7 linked regions of the Homo sapiens genome follow. The protein of the gene in region 5 purifies or fractionates together with the protein of the main gene of each other region. This does not show direct contact. Each region holds a gene or a part of one and is shown on either strand. Other genes may lie near its edges.

Region 1 (3,500 bases), on a different chromosome or scaffold from region 5:
CTCTTCAGCGTCAATGGGAGTGGGCATTTTTGTGGGGTGGCCGAGATGAAGTCCCCCGTGGACTACGGCACCAGTGCCGGGGTCTGGTCTCAGGACAAGTGGAAGGGGAAGTTTGATGTCCAGTGGATTTTTGTTAAGGATGTACCCAATAACCAGCTCCGGCACATCAGGCTGGAGAATAACGACAACAAACCGGTCACAAACTCCCGGGACACCCAGGAGGTGCCCTTAGAAAAAGCCAAGCAAGTGCTGAAAATTATCAGTTCCTACAAGCACACAACCTCCATCTTCGACGACTTTGCTCACTACGAGAAGCGCCAGGAGGAGGAGGAGGTGGTGCGCAAGGTGAGGCTGGGTGTTGCAGGCAACTGCCATGCAGATGTGTCCTTGGTGCCGTACTTAGACCAGGTGGCCCGGTGGTGAGCAGATGCGGCAGGTCCGCCGAGCTGAGTCTCGTGACAGGCAGCTCCCAGTTGGCCGCAGGTGGGCGGGCCCAGGTCCTGGCAGCCTCGTGGGCTTTCCCTGCGGAGAGTACTGCTAGTAACCAGTGATGGTATTTGGGTAGATGTCACCGAACGACTTTGATCACTTTCCAATTATAATTGAATAATTGGGACCACAGTGTACACATTCTGTTTTTCTGTTACAAAGAATTTGAGGGTAACTTTCTCCTCTCCTTTTTGAATTGTGATACTTTCTGGAACAGTGCTTCCCAGCCTCCGTCCATGAGGAACACTTAGGTGATATTCACGAAGCACTGCGGTGGGCACGTAGGGCATCGAGACCCCACCTGGCCAAGGGCCCTTGCTTCCCAGGGCACTGTCCCTCAGTAGTTGGGAATCTCTGGTCTTTGATCTGGAGGTCGTTGCTTTATTTTTCTTTTAAAAACCCAGTATCCTGCAGTTTTTGGAAACAAACTCACTCCATCTAGGTCGTAAAGAAAATGGTGGTGGTGGGGTAGGTTTGGAATCCAGACATTTTATAATGACAAATATGGATCCTATATCAAAAATTCATTGACTGGGCCTTTTTGAGACAGTCCTGATTTCCTGGGATACTTGTAGCCAAACTCCTGAGTCTGTGCTGTCATGTGATGTCTGACGGGATTGAGTGTGTTTGCTCTTCAGAAGGGCTCAGATGCCCGTAAACTGGCACCAGCAATGGGAAAATGATGATGCTGACATACTTCATAATGCTTCCTTTATTCGAGAGAGTTCATCCTGAGATTCTCTCCTGCTTTTTAAAAAATATCCCTTCCTGAAATGTCAGTTGATAATAGATGGGTTTTCAGTGTTTTTTTCAGTTCTCTATGTTAAAGGAATTATTCACCTGTGAGCACCAAGTGTCCTAATGTATTTTGGGCAGAAAGGCGTGTACATGGCATATATAGGGATGTATAGAGTAGAGCCGCCTGCACTGTCTGCAGTCTTACATTATGCAAGTCCTGAACAACTTGGGGCTTGTAGAACTTTGGAAAAGTATCAGTCCCTCTCTTTTGTGAGAAAAGAAGTGGATGTCATTTATTTCCAGTTACTGAATTCTGAATTAGTTACTGAAATTCTGTGTTTTAGGTCTTTTTTTTTTTTTTAAATGGAGTTTTGCTCTGTTGCCCAGGCTGGAGTGCAGTGGCGCAATCTCGGCTCACTGCAACCTCCACCTCCTGGGTTCGAGTGATTGTCCTGCCTTAGCCTTCCAGGTAGCTGGGATTACAGACAATAGCTCGGATTACAGACTTTTAGGTATAAAATGAATACTGAATTGCTAAAGTTGCAGGGATAATTGCTAATGAAGCTTTAGGTCCTTAGCTGGCTAAACTGGAAGCTGGCTGTGTGTGTGTGCGCGCACAGTTTTTCTTCTTAAATACCGTAATACTTGGGTTTTCATAAAGTGTGCGGACTCCTGACCTGGTTGGTGTTTTTAAAACTCTAGTGTCCTACAACTTGCATTATAAAAACTTGATCTAGATAACTGCTTTTGTGTGTCGGGTTATGGGTTAAGCATCTTGGTAAGCGGCCTGCAGGGTCTGTGGGCATCTGCCTGCAGGCAAGATCCAAGTGTTCCTCAAACCACTGGGTGCTCCAAGGCGAGTCCAACAGAGCCGCTGGTGGAGCATCATTGGAAGGAACTTGGTAACCCTCCCCTAAACTGTTAGCCAAGCTGGAGAACTCTGGGCCCATATGGGTCAGTGTTAACATTAATTCATTTTATTGAAAGTGACAAATGAGAACCTGGTTTGTTAATGTTTGGTGGAATTTCAAATAGCTTTTTTTTTTTTGAGCCAATCTCACCGTCAGCCAGGCTGGAGTGCAGTAGTGCAATTTTGGCTCACTGCAACCTCAACCTCCGAGGTTCAGGCCATTTTCCTGCCTCAGCCTCCCAAGTAGCTGGGATCATAGGCGCCCACCACTGCACCCAGCTAAATTTTGTATTTTTAGTAGAGATAGGGTTTCACCATGTTGGCCAGGCTGGTCTCGATCTCTTGACCTCAAGTGATCTGCCCACCTCAGCCTCCCAAAGTGCTGGGATTACAGGTGTGAGCCACCGTGCCCCGCCTCAAATAGCTTTTTGTTTTTGTTTTTGAGACAGGTCTTTCTCCGTCTGCCGGGCTGGAGTGCAGTGACTTAATCACAGCTTGTTGTAGCCTTGACCTCCTGGGCTCAAGCGGTCTTCCTGCCTCAGCCTCCTGAGTAGCTACAGGCGTGCACCACCACGCCTGGCTAATTTTTGTATTTTTTTGTAGAATCAGTGTCTTGCTATGTTGCCCAGGCTGGTCTTGAACTCCTGGGCTCAAACAGTCTTCCCACCTTGGCTTCACAAAGTGCTGGGATTATAGGAATGAGCCACTGTGCCCGGCGTCAAATATCTTTTAAGCTTATTGGGCAGTGTAGAGAAATGGAAGTGGTCCTTGAGGAGGTCCCCAGACTGGACTTCGCTGCTGGCTCTCCCTGCCTGCGAAGGTGCTCTAGGCCTTGTGCTTAACGGGCTGGGCTAGTGGCTCATCCAGGATTGGAGTCTTAGGTGTCTTGAGGCTGAGACTCTGGGTGTCTAATGCTTTCTCCCTCTGGGTTTCCCATGAAGAGTCAGTGCAGTTTTGTTTTGTTTTTTTTTTTTTTAAGACAGAATCTTGCACTGTTGCCCAGTCTGGAGTGTAGTGGTGTGATCTCGGCTCACTGCAAGCTCTGCCTCCTGGGTTCACACAATTCTCCTGCCTCAGCCTCCCGGGTAGCTGGGACTACAGGCCCTTGCCACCACGCCCAGCGAATTTTTTGTGCTTTTAGTAGAGATGGGGTTTCACCGTGTTAGCCAGGATGGTCTCGATCTCCTGACCTCGTGATCCGCCCGCTTTGGCCTCCCAAAGTGCTGGGATTACAGGCGTGAGCCACTGCGCCCGGCCGAGTCAGTGCAGTTTTAAGAACAAAGTAGTGTGCCGAGGAGAGGGTTGTGCGCCTGTGCTGGTAGAGCCCCCGGGCGGTTTTCTCAAGGTTCTCTCAGGACTTCGA
Region 2 (2,918 bases), on a different chromosome or scaffold from region 5:
CTGACTTGAAGTATTTAATAGATTTATCAGCACACAGGAAATTAAATTGGAAGGCTTTCCTCTTACACGTCTATCAAGTTAAAACTTTTCAGGATAAAATTTTTATCAGTTTTAGTAACATTCATGTTATGAAATGGAACATAAATGCTACTGAAACTTAATTTTTTTTTTTGTAGAGACAGGGTCTCATAATGTTGTCCTGGCTGGTCTCAAACTCCTGGCCTCAAGTGATCGTCCTGATTCAGCCCCTCCAAAGTATTGTGATTACAGGTGTGAGCCACTGTAGCTGGCCAAAACATTTTATTCTGAAGTGTAGTCTCTACAAATTGTCTTTAAAAGTGTGAATGGTAAGTTAAATTCTTGCATTACTTTTCTACCCAAATAAAATTACTTAAGGAAAAATTTCCCCTCCCATCTGTGTGGGCTCAAATGGTGCATCTTGTAAGTAATACCCTTGCTTACTCAGAACACTCAGCTGAGTCAGGGAGATTCTACACAAAGGTGTTTCACTGGTTTTATTTCACAAGGAAACAATATGAAGCGAAGCCAATCTATTCCTTCTGTGGCTTTAAATGCTCCCGATCTCTCAGCTGTGAAATAGTGATAGCATTGTCCAGATCTTCCAGGGTCGTTGTGTGAGTTAGAGATAATTTTTATCATTTGCCAAAGCACAAGAGGGCCCTGAGTAAAGAATGTGTGTATGGGTATCTTTGTATGTTTATAATTACCATTTCCATCAGGAAGAACAGCAAGACTTCACTTAATCTAAAATATTCGTGGAGTTAAAATGTAGGGAATAGAGAACTACGATCTCTCTTCCACCAGCCAGAAGTGGAAAATAAAGGAAGATGCTAAGAGGAAAGCTGGGCGGTTTGATCTCATCTGAGAGGTGTTCTTGGCTGAGGAAGCAGGAGATGTCCGACAACTGGCTGTGGAACCTGGCAGTGACATCAGAAGAGCTGGGGAGCGAGCCCTAGGACCAGCATTTAATTTATTTGAAGGTGTCAGAAGCTGAGGTTGCAGAATTGAGTCCTTTTAGCAGCTACCGCCCCTGGATGTAGTTTGTGAGAGGACGGGGAATAAAGAGAAAGCAGACCCCGACCGGGCACAGTGGCTCACACTTGTAATCCCAGCACTTTGGGAAGCCGAGGCAGGCGGATCGCCTGAGGTCAGGAGTTCGAGACCAGCCTGGCTAACATGGTGAAACCCCATCTCTACTAAAAATACAAAAATTAGCCAGGCGAGATGGTGTGTGCCTGTAGTTCCAGCTACTAGGGAGGCTGAGGCAGGAGAAGAATCGCTCCAACCAGAGAGGGGGAGGTTGCAATGAGCTGAGATCGCACCACTGCAACTCTAGCCTGCGTGACAGAGTGAGACTCTGTCAAAAAAAAAAAAAAAAGAGAGAGCGAGAAAGCAGACTCCACAAGCTGACGTGGAGATGAGTTTATACTTATGATGCTTTCAGTGCCCTCGATCTATCCCTGGTGTAGGCAACAAAATTAATTCCCTCCTTTTAGTTATTATCCTTTTATGCACCCTTGGGACAGCCAGGGCTGCTGGCTTCTGTGGCAGTGAATTTCCCCTAGAAGGGGGCTTGGACAGTACACGTTCCCAGTGGCTCATCAGAAGTACTTTCTGCAAGGGGATTCTGTGGAACCTCAGGAGGTATGCCTGGAGAAGCCACGGAAGCCCCAGGTGGCCCCTACTACTAAGGACACTGGTTTCTAGCCTGTGAGTCTCCTTTAGGTTCAGTGAGCTTCATGTTCACCAGGAAGGAAGGCACGTTTTTTTCCTCCTTCCTTCTCTTCCACTCCCCTTTGAGAAATGAAACCATCTGAGGAAAAAGAAGGCTGGGCTTTGTAATATGGGTCAAACCAAATGGTGACTCTCAAGACTGAGCATACATTATATTCACCAGGGAAGGGTTTTTTTGTTTTTTTGGTTTTTTTTTTTGAGACAGGGTCTCACTCTTGCCCAGGCTGGAGTGCAGTGGCACGATCATAGCTCACTGCAGCCTTGACTTCCTGGGCTCAAGCAATCCTCCCACCTCAGCCTCCTGAGTAGCTGGGACCATAGGTATGTGCCACCACACTTAGCTAATTTTTAAAATTTTTTGTAGAGACTTGCTATATTGCTCAGGCTGGTGTCTAACTCCTGAGCTCAAGCGATCCTCCTGCCTTAGCCTCCCAAAGTGCTGAGATTACAGGCATGAGCCACTGTGTCTAGCTGACTGGAGAAGCTTTTAAAATAGACTGACATACATCTCCCGCTGCACAACAGCTAAGTCAGAATCTTGGCGGTAGGGAGTATGGATTCTGTCTTTCCAGTTCTCTACAATAACCTGAGGTGTGATGACATGAGCCATTTTGCACACCACTGGATACCCGAAAATGCTACAAACACCTATTCAGCCCCTCATTATGCCTGTCTGTCACAGGGAGGCTGGAAACCTATAGCTAAGTAAGGAGACTGTGTGTGCTGTTCATCAAGGGAACGTGTGACTTCCACACATGCTGGACACCAGAGATGAGGCCCAAGCTGGTGAAGGGCCCACATGGAGGTAAGGATCACAGGCTTGATTGGGAGGGAAAGACAAGTGGAAAATGGCAAGAAGAGGAGGAACTGGGAGAAGCAAAACAAGGCGAAGATAAATTTAATAATTTTCTTTAAATAAATTTGTTATGCTAAAAAAAAAACCTCTAGTCATTTTCTAGAGACTTCTTTTTGCCTTAGGGATTCTTTATAGTTCCTCTCCATGTAACATATTGGGTAATACTTGTGGTTCTGAAATAAAATGCAAGCAGGGGGGTGTACACAAAAACCTTACCACTGAATCAAGGGACCAGCTGTGCAGACATTATGTAACAGTAATATTCTATAGTTCTGAACATGGCACTTGTGAATCAATAATTTTAGAA
Region 3 (2,880 bases), about 36 Mb from region 5:
CTGGCCAGACACTCAGTGTTGTCATTGAACAGAAGGTTTTTGGTTTCAGACTGGAATAAGCAAAACTTGTCCGGGCAGTCAGATCCATTTCTCCCAAATTTAGCCTGCGACAAAAGGGCAGACAGTGAGTAGCTAAGGAAAAGAGGAATTTATGGGTTAAAGGAGGCAAAGGGGTATTTCTTCCACCCAAGAACAGCCCTGAGAAAACCATGGGGCAGAAGGAGCTGAGTTCTGGAGTCATTCCACCTCCTTAGTGGAGTCCCCCACCCCACACTCCTGGTGGCAGGCCCGCCTTGGGCAGCATCCAGGCCTCGCACCACTTCTGGTCCTACCTCCTACCATCTGCCATCTTTCCTTCCTTCTTAACCTGTGACCTTTTCCCATACAACTTCTTATGGGTGACAAGGCAACAATGGAGGGGTTTTGAGATCTGCCCTCACAAGTCAATTGCTCAGGACATTCTAATATGCAGCTCTTCTAGAGAGGCAGGCTGCTAGGAAAACCCAGGCTCAGCCACTAACCAGCTCAGTGTGCAGGTCGGTCACCCTGCCTCCCTCACACAGTTCCTGCTCTGTCCCAGGCTCCCATGTGGGGAGACTGAGACCCAAACCCCTCAGTCACGGCAGCTCTCTCACCAGCACCACTGTGTGTGCACATTAAGAGCTCCATAAAGGCCAGTTATGGTGGCCAGTCTTGTTATTCCTGAGTTGTTTTCTTCAAAAGCACACAGAGACATGATGTTATATGATAAAAATAGAAGTTCTAATAAAATCCCAGATTTTAAGAAAATTTTGGGATTTCGTTCAAATCACATTTAGAGAGCCCTAAATCTATAGGGCACCTTCTGAGTTTGCTGTTTTAGAGGCCTGGCCTAGAGCACTGTTCACTCGGCCCAGGTTCAGGAAATGTCACCTGAGTAAAAAGCACTATACTAATGCATGTGGGAGGAAGGCTCAGTGGCTTCCTCATTTGCCAGAAGAACAGCAGGAGGGAAAAAGACAGCCTCTGAGCCAGGCAGTGATGGCAACAAGGCCAGGGCACAGAGTCTCAGCAGAAATGGAGTGAGTCCCAGAAAGCCCAGAGTCAAAAGCCTCTGTTGTTCTTGTTGACACTCTGGGCAACGCCACAGCATGAAGCCAATACTCTCACCATGAGCTTCAAGTAGAGGACTAGAGAGGATCGAGTGGGCTGGTGCACCTAGCTCTGTGATCTCCTCACCTAACATGAGCCCACACAGCTAAGAAAGCACTAGAAGCCCTGTGGTCCATACCTGTTGGTGGAGCAACACCTGTTTCAGGCGTTCCACCTTATCCATCCGAGACACCACGGCATGATTCGGGGCCATGGCAAGATGGCAGCTTCTAGCCTCAGTCACAGGCTTCCGTTTGCCATCGAGGCACAGCAGCGCAAAGTCTGCCAGCTTCAAATCCTTAGCCCATGCCTCATTGTTATTTCCTGGGGAGAAAAAGAAGGTGGCATCATCCACGCCTCCCCTGCTTAGCCAAGAAGTCTCTTCTGGGTGGGTGTGGCCATTCCACTGACCTCCCAAATGCACACACTGGGGTTGTGGTGATGTGAGGAACAGAGAAGGAGCTTCATCCTACACAAGCTGTACAAACTTCAAATATACCAAATATTAGTGCTGTGTCCATGCAATGGAATGTTATTCAGCAATAAAAGGGAGTGAAGTTCTGGTACATCCTGCAATATGCATGAACCTCGAAAACGATGCTAAGTGAAAGAAGCCAGTCACAAAAGACCACACAATAGGCTGGGCACGGTGGCTCATGCCTGTAATCCCAGCCCTTTGGAGGCCAAGGTGGGAGAATCACTTGAAGCTAGGAGTTCATGACCAGCTTGGGCAACATAGCAAGACCTCATCTCAAAAAAAAAAACCCACCACATATTATATGACTCCATTTATATGAAATGTCCAGAATAGGCCAACCTATGGAGACAGAAAGTGGATTGATGGTTGCCAATGCTGAAGAAGGATAGGGCAATGACTGATAATAGGTGCAAGGGTTTCTTTATGGGAGGATACAAGCGTTCTAGAGTTGGATTGTGTTGATGGCTGCACAACTCTGTGAATGTGCTGGAGATCACTGAATTGTACACTTTGCATGGGTGGATTTTTTAGTATATGAATTCTACCTCAATAAAGCTGTTTAGAGTTCTTATTTTTTTAAAGAAGAAAACCCTCCACCTATGCCATATTTTTCAGTGAGTTCCAGAAAAAGAATAGATGGTTTACATTCAAGGAGAAATTGGTTTCTCCTCCCTTTCATATTCAAATGCTATTAGTGTAACCAGAGAAAGGAAAGGAACTTTTATAGGTTTATCAAATATATACAGCCAATTCTAACAAAATACAGTTGTAAAGTACCGGAGAAAGTTAAAATTAAATTTGACATCAATCTGATCCCTGGAGATTACTTCAGTTAATGGCTTGTAAATTCTAAATGTAATTGTATGCATGTCTATGTTTGTGCAGATGCCGGCTCATTGTTCCGGCTCCCGTTTGTCTCTCTGCTCTCTCCCTTTAAGAAAGCACTTTATTCATTCTCTTGGATTCCTCTATTTGATATTGAAATAATTTCAAATTTACATGTCTTGTTTTAATCTCTGTCCCAAGAGACACTAGAAGGAGCAGAAGCAGAAGGGAGAAGTGGCTGAGACTGCAGTGATTACTGAAGGAGGGAGGCCGAAAGTGGAGACAGTTCTTTCTCAGGAAACAGAATAGCAAGTCACCTGCTGAGACTTGGGGGTTGGAATGCTGAAGTGGGGCTAAGGAGACAGATGCAGATTGGAAGGTAGCAAATGGCTGAGGACCAGGAGAGAGAGTGATTGTTCAAACATTGGCTGGAAGATTATCTTCCA
Region 4 (2,807 bases), on a different chromosome or scaffold from region 5:
ATTTTTCCAGAGAGTTAGGTATATCATAATTTTCCATTTCAAGTCCTGTTTATAAGTCTAGTCATTCTGCAACGTGACATATCCCCCAAAATGAAGTTACCTTCCAAGTTGGACACGTCCCGTAGTTGGGCATATGTCTAACTAAAAGTTTCTGACTTTTAGTAAATTCAGCTTAAATATAAGTTGAAATTTGGGAAATAATTTCCAAGCTCTTGGAAGGGGTAACAGTGAACCGCCCTCCATGGGCTCCACATCTTTTCCTTTGGCTTCCAAAGTCAGGTCCCGCCCACCCTGCCTAAGGAACTGCAGAGAGGTGGCAAATCAGCAAAAAGGACACCAGGCTCTTCTTGGCCACTTGTAGGAAGATCCCTTTACAATTTTGACTAAGGAGATTTTTTTTTTCACAGTTGAGTTAGTTTGTGAAAATAAAGAACTCTGTAGCTCACCAAGGTGGAGAAACGCAATTCAGAAAAGTAATTTCTCCAAGGTCACTTCTTTTTTTATGTCTTGCCATCACTTTAAAGGACTAGCCCCACTCCCCCATGTGTATACACAAGGAAATTGCAGACCAATTAGTTGTCTTGGCCTGACTCTAATGCCTTTTGCAAGTAGCTTTCCAGAAGTAAAAGTCCCAGTGATGTATTCCCATAGAAATATTTTTCAGTTGTTTATGTCGTTTACTACAAAAAAAAAGATTCAGAGTGGATGGAGTACAACTCTGAGTATTTTTCTAGTCCGGAATTTTTTATTAATAATCGGTGCTGCCGGGTCATGCATGCTGCAACTCTCAACATTTCCCTTATTTGGTTCAGCTTTTAGCAAAAAGGGCTACAGTTCACCCTGCAGAGTATTAAGGTTTCTGGATTTTTTTCTCCCAACTGTGGCCCAAAAGAATTAAAATCTGTTAATATAAATAGAGAACATATTTATCATTCCTCGATAGTTAATTATAGACTTTGGTACCTTTGTGCCTCAGGGAAGCCACGTGATATAACTGGTTATAGAATTTCAGGGTTAGGGTTTAAAGAAAGGAGAAAGCCATTGGAAAAATGATGGGCTCCATTAAGGAGACTAATGAATCTGGATGCAGAAATATGTCAGAAACTGGCATAAACATGATTGTAGTAGAATTTATTTTCCAGTACCAATAGGGAAATTATTTTAAGTTATTACATTTACTGTATTGGGAAACTTGAGGAGAACTCTTTAGTTCATAAAGCTTCAATGTCTTTTTTTTTTTTTTCATGGAAAAACTCAAACCTCTGTTATTTGGGAGCTCAGTATTGTGTGGACACTTACGAGAGTTTTCTGCTTAATTGAAGTGTAATATAGGTTGTAGAATTGTTACCTGCAGTTCTATGGTTTTGTTTCACTTCTTTTCTTTTTTAAAGCCATTCTGTTCTTTGGATGTGCTTGAAAGGGTGTGTGATTACACCATTGTTAATGCTGGGTAAAAACTATCTTCTTGCAGCCTTGCCTCATAACAGTGGAATTTCTGATAGACAAACCACAGGACTTTGATTTTAAGCCAAATCCATCTCCATCCCTTTACTGTCAATCTTCTGTCCCAGTAGTTTAGCCTTTGTGGCTTAGGTTATGATGCGCCTCCTTCTGTGCGACCAATGAGACGACTTCAGCATCTTTTTAAAATAATCTAAGCATCATTGAAGCAGTAACACAAAAAAAAGGTTCAGTATTTTCTTTTTAGTATAACTTACATCCTTTCAAATAAGTCTTTGCCCTCATGAAGAATCCCTAGAGGAAGATAAGGAAAATAAGTATTTTCCAGTTTTGCTTGACAGTTTCTAAACAAACAAAAATAAACTCAATGAAAGGAAAGATGTTTCTTTTTAGCTGAGATGACAGATTGCTTCTCTGTATTAAATAGTCTAGAAGTTAAGGGGATGGTCACATTTACCATGTATTGTGTTATTAGCAGTTAAATTTTATGAATATGTTTGTAAAATTGTTGTTTTATATTTCATGTCAAATTGAAAAGTTTATTTCTTCACTATTGTACCTGTGGAAATACAAGCCATTTTACAGGAAAAAATCTTCAAAAACTATTAAATGGATATCAGCCTGTTTGTGAGCCATTGTCTTCAGATTCTGTGGTTGTCACTGAGTTCATTAGGACATTTAGTAGGTTGATACGAGTAGAACTGATTTTTTTCACTTCTCTAACTTCCAAGTTAATCTCCAGCTGTTGAGTTTATTAATTGTTTTATATTCTGCACAATACATATTTAAACCTTGATTCTGAAAATCCCCTACATTTTTTAATTAAAGAAATTTCCTTGGTGCCTATATTACTATTTCTCGTGACATTACATCACTGTCAAATAAAGTTAACTTCCAGGGGAATTTAACCTGACTTGTAGAATTAATGGATTTTTGTCATGATCATTTCAGCCATATTGCTGCTCTTGTGACAGTCTTCATTCACTTTTAACAACATAATAAGGATTGTGTATAAGCCTTCAAGCCTTCCTTGAAGCCTTAAACTAATATATCTATCATAAGAAAATGTATATATTTATGACAAATTTTGTTCTCATCACATTGATATTCAAAGAGTTTTAGTATTATTGAGAGAAACAGATTTTTCATTTCCAGAAAAAAAATGCACATTTATATAGGCTTTTATTTCAGGGGATAAGTGTTCCATACTTTGTCAAATCTAAGATGCCACGAATTGTGAGATGTGTTATAGAAAATCACAACTGGTTATAATTGTAAGTTACATTCCATTGGGCAAGGAATACACCTCACACAGCATACAAACATTAAATCAAAATGGGTCAAAG
Region 5 (3,500 bases):
CCTTTCCTCTTTTCTCTCCCCCAATTTTTTTTTTGTTTTTTGAGACGGAGTTTCACGCTTGTCACCCAGGCTGAAATGCAGTGGTGCGATCTCAGCTCACTGCAACCTCCACCTCCCTGGTTCAAGCGATTCTCCTGCCTTAGCCTCCTGAGTAGCTGGGATTACAGGTGCTCGCCACCACACCCAGCTAATTTTTGTATTTTTAGTAGATAGGCTTTCACCATGTTGGCCAGGCTAGTGTCGAACTCCTGACCTCAGGTGATCCACCCGCCTTGGTCTCCTATAGTGCTGGGATTACAGGTGAGAGCCACCACCCCGGCTCTCTCCCCTAATTTTTATTTGATTGCATCAATAATTCTAATAGCAGGCAAGGAAATGAAAGGGTGAGAGAGGTCACCACTAACCTACCCCATGACTCATCAGCTGGCCTCTAGGTTTTGTTTCTTTTTTCACTTCCTGCCTATACAAATCCTTAGTCCTGAGGTAGCACCTGGGTACCAATTCACATCCTGTTTTTTACCCCTTCATTTAAACATAGTAAACATTTCGCTACATTGTATACCGTCATGTTTTTTAGTGTCTTAGTCTTCCCGTGAAGGAATTTGCCCATAATTTACTTAACCACTCCTGGCACACACACCCGTGCATTTGCGGGCGTGCACACACACACACGCTAAAAAAGTTTTTTTTTTGGCCGGGCGCGGTGGCTCACGCCTGTAATCCCAGCACTTTGGGTGGCCAAGGCGGGCAGATCACGAGGTCAAGAGATCGAGACCATCCTGGCTAACACGGTGAAACCTCGTCTCTACTAAAAATACCAAAAAAAAAAATTTTTTTTTTTTTTTTTTTTTTTGAGATGGAGTCGCGCTCTGTGGCCCAGGCTGGAGTGCAGTGGCACAATCTCTGTTCACTGCAAGCTCCGCCTCCCAGGTTCACGCCATTCTCCTGCCTCAGCCTCCAGAGTAGCTGGGACTACAGGCGCCTGCCACCATGCCCGGCTAACTTTTTGTATTTTTAGTAGAGATAGGGTTTCACTGTGTTAGCCATGATGGTCTCGATCTCCTGACCTCGTGATCCACCCACCTTGGCCTCCCAAAGTGCTGGGATTACAGGTGTGAGCCACCGCGCCTGGCCAAAAAAAATTTTTTTTTGAGACAGGGCCTTGCTCTTTTGCCCAGGCTGGAGTACAGTGGCGCAATCTCAGCTCACCGCAGCTTCCCACCTTAGCCTCCCAAGTAGCTGGGACCACAGGCACGCACCACCATGCCGTGCTGAATTTGTTTGTTTTAGTAGAGATGAGGTCTTGCCATGCTGCCCATGCTGGTCTCAAACTCCTGGGCTCAGGTGATCCTCCTGTCTCGGCCTCACAAAGTGTTGGGATTACAGGCATGAGTCACTGCACCTGGCCTGCACTATATATCTGTACACATGTGGCTTAGCTTTTTCCCATTTTGGAGTATGTTCTCAGTGTTTGCTCCTGGGGGTTAGATGACTAGATCAAATGATTTTTTTTGAGACAGTGTACCACTCTGTTGCCCAGGCTGGAGTGCACCTCTGCTTCCGGGTTCAAGCAATTCTCCTGCCTCAGCCTCCTGAGTAGCTGGGACTACAGGCGCACACCACCACGGCTGGTTAATTTTTGTATTTTTAGTAGAGATGGAGTTTCGGCATGCTGGCCAGGCTGGTCTTGAACTCCTGACCTCAGGTGATCTGCCCATCTCGGCCTCCCAAAGTGCTGGGATTACAGGCGTGAGCCACTGTGCCCGGCCAAGAGGGAATTTTTTTTTCTTTCTTTTTTTACATGATCTGGGCAGGTTTAGTCACAAAGGATGCTGGCCACTTAGACCTGAGTCAGCCAGGCCAGAGCTGGGGGTTGGAACAGTTGTGGAAGAGACTGAGTCTGCACAGCCTGTAGGCGTGGCAAGCTGAGGCTGATCAGGGTTGGCATCTGTGGGGATCAGGGAGGCTGCACTTTGGCCACATTCCTGGGGCAGCAAGACTAAGTCTGAACTCCATCTCCATTTGCTGGAGGGAGTGTGCTCCTGATGCCCTCTCTTCCCCAGTCAGGGCTGGCTCAGAAGCTCCATGCTGAGGGTCTTTAGAGACCTCAACTTGCAGGAGGTGAGGTTGCTATATTGTCTCCCCAAAGGGTCTCCATGGCAACTTGTTGTTATCCAGCTCAAAATGAGAAGGTTCCCTCTCCTTTCATTTCCACAGCTCTAATGTCTTGCTGGACCAAAATCTCACCCCCAAACTTGCTCACCCAATGGCTCATCTGTGTCCTGTCAACAAAAGGTCAAAATACACCATGATGAAGACTCACCTGCTCCGGACGTCAGCCGCGTATCTGCCAGAGGATTTCATCCGGGTGGGGCAGCTGACAAAGCGAGTGGACATCTTCAGCTGTGGAATAGTAAGAGTGTCCTGCTCTGCGTAGAGTGGGGCCCACCTTGATTTGTCCTTCCCACGGCTCCTTTGTAATCACAGGATACGGTAGAGGCACACAGACAGGTTCCATCAAAGTACAACAGGGGCTGACAAACTGTGGCCCACAGGCCACTTTGGCCTGTGGCGTATTTTGTATGGTCTGTGAGCTAAGGGTAGTTTTACATTTATAAAGGATTATATTTTTAAACACAAAGAATATGTGATAGAGACTGAACATGCTCCCCAAAAGCTCACATATTTACTGTGTGGCGTGTTACAGAAGAAATTTGCCAGCCCTTGAAGGAAAACCACTCATGAGTGTCCAGGTTCTAGTAGGCTCCAGATATCCTCTCCTGACTTCCGTAATTCCCATCCAGCCATCCACTTGTCCATCCAGTTGTCTATTTGTCCTTATTTGTTCATCGCTGTCCGATCATCCATCTACCCTTTAGCTGCCCATCCATTCAGCGACCACTGACCCACCCAGCATCCCACCCTACCACCACCACCATCCTTGTCTGCCATTATGTCGTGCCAGGCACTAGGAATATGAATGTAACAAAAACACAGTCCCTCCCCTCAGGAGCTCATGGTCTGCATGTAGCAGTCTCCAAAGTATATTTCTGTAGAACTCCAGTTCCTTCGGACCTCTAGGATTGATGTGTTAAAAGGGTTTGTGCCCTGACAGGCTTGGAAATATTGCATTAGGCAAAGTCAAGCAGGTTTCTTTACCACAAGATTAATTCAAGCTGGTTGAATGGTAGTGAGCCTTTAATCTGGTACTTGTGAATTCACCAGAGAGGGGTATGCAGTGTTTCCCAAGCTCATTTGACTATGGAACCTTGTGTTCTCAGAATATCTGTCCTTGTCAGTGTTCCATGGAACCCAGTCTGGGAAATGCTGGCTGAGAAGAGTAACAGTCAGGTTGGCTTCAGCCAAGTGCATACAGCTGCCCCTTGGGCCTCACCCTCTTTTCTTCTCTAGCCTTGAACTCTGTACTTCCTCTCTCTGACCACAGTCTCCTGTCTGTCTACCTCTGCTACCAGAACCGTGGCCCTGAGTCACCTCTGCCC
Region 6 (3,500 bases), about 110 Mb from region 5:
TCATTCAATATTGCCTCTTGGTCCTCAGTCAAGATTATTCTCGAATCCAGGGTGGTTGGACTACAATTTCCCAGCTTACACAGATATTAAGGTAAAATAAAGCAGTAAGTCAGCTGTTCTTGAGGGATGTAGTAGTTGATTCTGATTTTCAACATTTGCTTTTTATTTATCTGCCTAACAAGCATTGGCAACCTCCTGTTGTAGGTTTTGGTTGTACTTTTCCTTCATATTATATGTTATTATTCATAATTTTACTTCAGATTATTTGACTGTCTAAAATTTTCCTCCACAAGCTTAATGAAGATGGTGATCATTTTTTTTCTCACCACTGAATTCCAAGTGCCTAATATACTTTTTATTGATTAAGGAATTTTTAAAGAAGTGAAGAAATTAAGGCACTGGCTCTGTACCTGAGAAACTTAAAATAGAGATTGGGTGACAGTCATGTAAGTATATGATACAAAGCAGAATGAAATCAGTGCTAAAATGAAAGTATGCAAGCAAGTACTATAGGAGAACTGATAAAGAAACATTTTATTTCACTATATCAATGTAGCTATCAACTGTGTATTTCATTAAGCAACCCAAATACTGTCAATAAAATTTAGAAGTAGAATTTACTGATCTACTGCCATGCTAGAAATTAATAGAAGAGAAATAAACATTTTTTAAAGGAGGTAGTAAAATAAACCAGATGTTCTTAGTGCCTAAGCTACTTCCTGATTAATAAGTGAAAGTGTGTATTTACTAACTGGATCCTAGCCTTCTTTTTTTGTTTTTCCTAAATAAGCCATTTGAATTTAATAAGCTATTCCCACTGAAAGGGTTTGTCTTGGATGCTAGATTTCTAAGCTGCTTAATCCTACTGTGTTACTTGGTAAAGGCCAAATTTAAAGCACACAGTTACAAAGAACAGTTGAAAAATATATGTGATATTCTTTTTCATACTTTAATTTTCAAGATTGATTTTCTTAAGTAAATAAAGCCTTATGTTTTTGTTTTGATTCGATATGCTAGTTTATGATGATATTGATTAAGCCAGGCTCTCGGGTGGAATTCAAGACTTAAGAAATTCCCATGTTTCTGAATGCACAAATAAACATAATTTCATTTGTTAATCTTCTCAATCAAAAAAGATACTCTTAAGTAATTAACTTTAGGAACCAAAGAGAAAAGAAAAGCTGATACATGTGAGCATTAGCCCATTAACTTTAGGAACCCAGGTGCAAATAAACAACAACAACAACAAAAAGTGATACATGTAAATATTATCCACTTAGGTTTTTTTTTAACTTTTATTTTAGGTTCAGGGGTACATGTGGAGGTTTGTTTTATAGGTAAATTGCATACTCAATGTTTGTTCTCACTTATAAGTGAGAATATGCAGTGTTTGGCTTTCTGTTCTTGTGTTAGTTCACTTAGGTTAATGGCCTTCAGCTCCATCCATGTTGCTGCAAAGGACATGATCTTGTTCTTTTTTATGGCTGCATAGTATTCCATGGTGTATATGTACCACCCCAAAGAAATATACCATTTTCTTTATCCAGTCTGCCATTGATTACTTAGATTTTTAACATGCTCAATACATAGTTGTTATTGCTTATTAGTGTCCATACATTTTGTTGAAAAGACTCAAACAGCAGTTTTTGTTCATTAGAGTACACACATAGAGACCATTCTTGGGTTTGAGGCTCTTTTGAATGTTAGTTTACAGAAAAACCTTTTATTATTGGGACTTCTGACTTATGTACAGGAAATGACTTTTATGTACAATTTTAAGAGGACCTTTTTCTCTAAGTGACTTTCTCTCCTCTAATGTATATTGTAAAGTGTTCCTACTAGAGTTAGGTTTTGCCGTTTGTCCTTCTGATATAAGGAATATGCAAATGAGTATTTTGCAAAAAGTAGATCTATTGGAAGGTAAAATTGGTATGAAATTAGTGTTTGGTTTCCTTATGTATCCCTTGCAAACAAATCCTACTTGGGCATTTTTCAGCTATTAGGTGTCTAAAATGTATTAGTTAACACAAATGCTTTTCATAAATTAAACTCTCAAGGTATCCTATAGCTTTGAGAATGATTATAGCCAATTCACTGAAAACTTAGCTTCTCTTTATTGTGAGCCAAGTGTCTTTTATTTGCTGAATGAGCTGATATGTAGGTTTTTAGGATACATAAATCCCAGACCTAAGTACAAGCATGGTCCATACCACTGTTTACTTTTCTAGAAAGTTGTTAGACTAATTTTTCAACAAAAATTCTTTATTGTCTTGGTAACAAAAGAAGCATACTAAAAATTCTCAATAAGGCACAGTGTCTCTAGAAGCTTGAGCATTCAACATAAACTTCTAATTAACACGAACTTGTGCTCTTATTTCAGCCATTGCTGTGTGGGCTTGGAGCCAGGAGAAGATGCAGAGGAATTTTACAATGAATTACTTCCATCAGCTGCAGAAAATTTTCTAGTTTTGGGGAGACAATTACAAACATGTTTTATCAATGCAGCTAAGGTATGTGTTTATTTAGTCTTTTGTAGCTAAATCAGTTTAATTCTTAAGAAGCTGTTCTGTTATTTTTTAAATGTGCAATATTTGGCTGAAAGTACAATTAAAGTAGTGAATTTAAACATTTTCAAAGTTACAACCTTCCAAAAATCATCTCTATGTTTGAAAAATTTTTAATGCTGACTGAAGCTTGCCATTTGATTTTTTGAAGGATCTGCCTTGCTACTTTACTTGTTGGGCAGCACCCATAGACAATTATTTCCATAACATCTTTCTAAACATACTTTTTACTTAAATTAACAGTAGAGGAAAGTATGTTCTCTAGGGCTAGGGCTTTTCTAAGTAGCTCCAGTAGTGAAGAATAAAGGTGAACTTCCTATTTGATCTCTCATATCTTCTCCAGTCAAAATATTCAACCCAAACATAGGGGTCTTTTCAAGTATTTCTTGGTTGCATTATGCTAGATGCTATACATGTGCTCTTTTTTTGACCCAGGGATTTAGAAGTGTGTTGCTTAATTTCCAAATATTTGAAGATCTACTAGATACTTTATTGTTATCAATTTCTAATTTAATTATGTTTTGGTCAGATAACATTCTCTATATCATTTCAATCCTTTGGAATTTTTTCAGACTTGTTTTATGGCCCTCCGCATATGTTTTATCTTTGTGAATGTTCATTAAAAGAAACTTTTGTGGGCTGGGCGCAGTGGCTCACACCTGTAATCCCAGCAGTTTGGGAGGCCGAGGCGGGCGGATCACCTGAGGTTGGGAGTTTGAGACCAGCCTGACCAACATGGAGAAACCCTGTCTCTACTAAAAATGCAAAATTAGCCGGGCATGGTGGCACATGCCTATAATCCCAGCTACTTGGGAGGCTGAGGCAGGAGGATCACTTGAACCCAGGAGGCAGAGGTTGCAGTGAGCCAAGATAGTGCCATTGCTCTCCAGCCTGGGCAACAAGAGCAAAACTCCATCTGAAAAAAAAAAAAAAAAG
Region 7 (3,500 bases), on a different chromosome or scaffold from region 5:
CAACATGGTGAAACCTCGTCTCTACTAAAATAAAAATAAAAAAAAGAAAAAATTAGCCAGGTGTGGTGGCGGGTGCCTGTAATCCCAGCTACTCAGGAGGCTGAGGCAGGAGAATCTCTTGAACCCGAGAGGTGGAGGTTGCAGTGAGCCGAGATTGTGCCACTGTACTCCAGCCTGGGCAACAGAGTGAGAGTCAAAAAACAAACAAACAACACTAAATGCCTACTCTGTGCCAAGCACTATTCTAGTTGCAGATCATTTTTTTTTTTTTAAGAGACAGAATCTCACTATGTTGCCCAGGCTGGTCTTGAACTCTTGGCTCAAGCGATTCTCCCACCTCAGCGTCCTAAAGCACTGGGATTACAGGAATGAGCCACCATGCCTGGCCTCTGATCCAGGTCTCTTAACTCCCAATTTGATGCTCTGTTTACTTGTTCTCTATATTTAATAGTTTTCTTTGGAAAAGTGTTCACTCTTCTTCTTTGTGTTTCTGTGATAGATCCTGCCTAGTTAGGAGTTTGGAGATAAGGAAGTTTGAGAAAAACAAGAGGCTCTAGGACAATTAATCATGTCTGTGGCTCTGCTCAGCATATCACTTGGGTTGTCAGCAGAGCCACATGGACCTAGAATTGGCCTGTCATCTTTGGAAGGAAGTTGTGTTGCTGATTCTCTGCTTTGGCTCATTGGCTTGTTAGCCATTTGATGTAGATTATTTTGTGTGTGGGGATTTTTAATAAATCTTTCAATCTGAGTCATTTGGGAAGAGCAATGTTCTAGCTTAATGTATTATTTTGAGAAGTGATGTCCTCTTTCACGTAATGTTGGTCTCATGCAAGTAGGGAGCTATGCCAAATGTAGTATCTCTGCTGAACTTTGGGTCACCTTTTTAACTAATATGTATCCATATGATTTTAACTAATATGTATGCATAAGGATTGTGTCTCCTTAATTCCTAGTTACAATTATTTTATGTCATTTAGATTCCTTTTACTTATTCCATACTTGTAAAGCACTCATATAAACAATTTAAATGATTGTTTTTATTGATGAAAATATTTTAATTTTCTCATAAGCCTCCTGCTCATTTGTCAAATTTTTCTTTTCCTACCCATAGTTCTACTTTCTTCCAGGCAGAGCTGTGGATCAAAGAATTGTAAGTTATTTTTGGTATCATTTTTCCTTCTCAATCAGTTCATTTTTAGTTAGAAGAAATCAAACAATTAGCTAATCATCCTGCTTATTTTTTGCCAATAAGAAGTACCTGTTTAGGCTGGGCGCGGTGGCTCACGCCTGTAATTCCAGCATTTTGGGAGGCTGAGGCAGGTGGATCATCTGAGGTCAGGAGTTCAAGACCAGCCTGGCCTTCATGGTGAAACCTCATCTCTACTAAAAATACAAAAATTGGCTGGGCATGGTGGCACGCGCCTGTAATCCTAGCTACTTGGAAGGCTGAGGCGGGAGGATTGCTTGAACCTGGGAGGTGGAGGTTGCAGTGAGCCGAGATCACGCCACTGCACTCCAGCCTGGGCAACAGAGTAAGACTCCATCTCAAAAAAAAAAAAAAAGAAGTGCCTGTTTATACTTTTAAGTTGTTGGGTTTTCAAAATATTGTTGGAGTTGGAACATTTCTATACTTATGTTTATTAAATCTATAACAATTGTTGAAGCTAAATTAAATTGGAAAAATAGAGTTAGCTATTATATAATAGGGAAAATAAATGATCCTATTTTGGCATTTGTAAAACTAATTTATTGAATAATTCATATTTCTGGACTTTGCAAAATCACTGAAAGCATTTAGTCTCACTTAAGGAACTTAAGTTATCCAAACCCCTCGGTCTCGGTAATTTTTTAAAAATCTATCAAAAATGAAGTATTTGAATTAAACTTCAGTGATATCTTGTATTCGTTTCTCCTTTAGGGTTCAATCCCATTTTTGGATTTCCAGACTGAAGTTTCGCTTTCACTATAATCTTAAAAGCATGTTAAGAAAAGAACTGTGTGTTTACAAATGTTAACAAGTCATCTGTTCACATTTAGCAGCACACTAATATTTTTAGTAATTTCAGTAAAAATAGGTCGGGTGCAATGGCTCACATCTGTAATCCTAGCACTTTGAGAGGCCAAGGTAGGGGGGTCGCTTGAGCCCAGGAGTTTGAGACTAGCCCGGGCACTGTAGTGAGACCCTATCTCTATAAAAAATAATAAGTAAAAATGGTAGAGTAATTTCAGTAACATTATGTGGTTTCACTCTATGTCTTAAAATAAGGATGATAAGTTAGTGTAAGGATTTTAGACTTTCTTTGTGAGGGTCCTGTATTTAATATTCAGTGTACATCAACAATATGTTTCATAATGAGAGTGGTCTACATTTGGTCACGTTCCTTTTCATTTTCTAGAACTAGTGTTTATGATTCTCGAGCACGAGAAAGATTGCGCCAGATTGAAGAACAGAAGGCATTGGCCTTACAGCTTCAAAACCAGGTAAAAAAGAAAATTGGAATAATATTACAAATAAATAGTACATCAAAGTAGAAACTATTTTGGAAAGTTACCCAGATTTGGGTAATTGCTGTTGTAATTCCAAGATCGTATGGTAGCATAGCATGTTATGATATGTCGTAAATGTTCTTGGTCTGTCCAGTCAGTGCTACTCATTGTACATAAGACAAATATAGATAGTCCCCTACTTGTGATGGTTCGACTAATGATTTTTTGACTTTACAAAAAAGCGAAAGCAATGGGCATTTAAGCACGCTCTTTGACTTATGACAGGTTTATTGGGACATAACCCTATCATAAATCAAGGAACATCCACAGATTTCTTTATCCCACTTACTCTGAAGTTTTATCTTTCAGAGATTGCAGGAGCGGGAACATTCAGTACATGATTCAGTAGAACTACATCTTCGTGTACCTCTTGAAAAGGAGATTCCTGTTACTGTTGTCCAAGAAACACAAAAAAAAGGTCATAAATTAACTGATAGTGAAGATGAATTTCCTGAAATTACAGAGGTAAGTTACATACACTTAATTTCTACACTACTAAGTATCATGTTTAGAAAGAATCCCTCGGATGAGTTTCAAACATAAAAGCAATAGTGGTCAGGCACGGTGGCTCACGCCTGTAATCCCATCACTTTGGGAGACTGAAGCGGGTGGATCACTTGAGGTTAGGAGTTCGAGACCAGCCTGGCCAACATGGTAAAACCCCATCTCTACCAAAAATACAAAAATTAGCTGGGTGTGGTGGCATGCACCTGTAATCCCAGCTACACAGGAGGCTGAGGCAGGAGAATTGCTTGAACCCGGGAGGCAGAGGTTGCAGTGAGCCGAGATCATGCCACCGTACTTCAGCCTGGGTGACAGAGCAAGACTCCATCTCACATACACACACACACAAAAAGCCATAGAACACGTGTTATTTAAATTTTCTTGTATATTTCAGCTTTCGCTTATTTTATATACCAATCTGGGCTTTATTTTTAAAATATTGAAAA

The links.
Region 1: the proteins of IRAK2 (region 5) and YTHDF1 purify together in Homo sapiens (affinity purification with mass spectrometry; one large-scale study listed by BioGRID and IntAct). This does not show direct contact.
Region 2: the proteins of IRAK2 (region 5) and LYN purify together in Homo sapiens (affinity purification with mass spectrometry; one large-scale study listed by BioGRID and IntAct). This does not show direct contact.
Region 3: the proteins of IRAK2 (region 5) and LTF purify together in Homo sapiens (affinity purification with mass spectrometry; one large-scale study listed by BioGRID and IntAct). This does not show direct contact.
Region 4: the proteins of IRAK2 (region 5) and PELI2 purify together in Homo sapiens (affinity purification with western blotting, with the first as the bait; one study listed by BioGRID). This does not show direct contact.
Region 6: the proteins of IRAK2 (region 5) and IQCB1 purify together in Homo sapiens (affinity purification with mass spectrometry; one large-scale study listed by BioGRID and IntAct). This does not show direct contact.
Region 7: the proteins of IRAK2 (region 5) and SENP1 purify together in Homo sapiens (affinity purification with mass spectrometry; one large-scale study listed by BioGRID and IntAct). This does not show direct contact.

Annotation. Positions count from the first base shown.
Region 1 is NC_000020.11:63,199,132-63,202,631, reverse strand, and holds part of YTHDF1 (YTH domain-containing family protein 1), read left to right. Parts: coding exon 1-345; intron 346-3,500.
Region 2 is NC_000008.11:56,011,752-56,014,669, reverse strand, and holds the end of LYN (tyrosine-protein kinase Lyn), read right to left. Parts: 3' UTR 501-2,918; downstream 1-500. UniProt on the Homo sapiens protein: Non-receptor tyrosine-protein kinase that transmits signals from cell surface receptors and plays an important role in the regulation of innate and adaptive immune responses, hematopoiesis, responses to growth factors and cytokines, integrin signaling, but also responses to DNA damage and genotoxic agents.
Region 3 is NC_000003.12:46,438,026-46,440,905, forward strand, and holds part of LTF (lactotransferrin isoform 1 preproprotein), read right to left. Parts: intron 1,456-2,880; coding exon 1,271-1,455; intron 105-1,270; coding exon 1-104. UniProt on the Homo sapiens protein: Transferrins are iron binding transport proteins which can bind two Fe(3+) ions in association with the binding of an anion, usually bicarbonate. Lactoferricin binds to the bacterial surface and is crucial for the bactericidal functions.
Region 4 is NC_000014.9:56,299,218-56,302,024, forward strand, and holds the end of PELI2 (E3 ubiquitin-protein ligase pellino homolog 2), read left to right. Parts: 3' UTR 1-2,307; downstream 2,308-2,807. UniProt on the Homo sapiens protein: E3 ubiquitin ligase catalyzing the covalent attachment of ubiquitin moieties onto substrate proteins. Involved in the TLR and IL-1 signaling pathways via interaction with the complex containing IRAK kinases and TRAF6.
Region 5 is NC_000003.12:10,220,419-10,223,918, forward strand, and holds part of IRAK2 (interleukin-1 receptor-associated kinase-like 2), read left to right. Parts: intron 1-2,217; coding exon 2,218-2,413; intron 2,414-3,500. UniProt on the Homo sapiens protein: Binds to the IL-1 type I receptor following IL-1 engagement, triggering intracellular signaling cascades leading to transcriptional up-regulation and mRNA stabilization.
Region 6 is NC_000003.12:121,825,061-121,828,560, reverse strand, and holds part of IQCB1 (IQ calmodulin-binding motif-containing protein 1), read left to right. Parts: coding exon 1-91; intron 92-2,380; coding exon 2,381-2,510; intron 2,511-3,500. UniProt on the Homo sapiens protein: Involved in ciliogenesis. The function in an early step in cilia formation depends on its association with CEP290/NPHP6.
Region 7 is NC_000012.12:48,064,580-48,068,079, reverse strand, and holds part of SENP1 (sentrin-specific protease 1), read left to right. Parts: intron 1-1,114; coding exon 1,115-1,153; intron 1,154-2,399; coding exon 2,400-2,484; intron 2,485-2,859; coding exon 2,860-3,015; intron 3,016-3,500. UniProt on the Homo sapiens protein: Protease that catalyzes two essential functions in the SUMO pathway.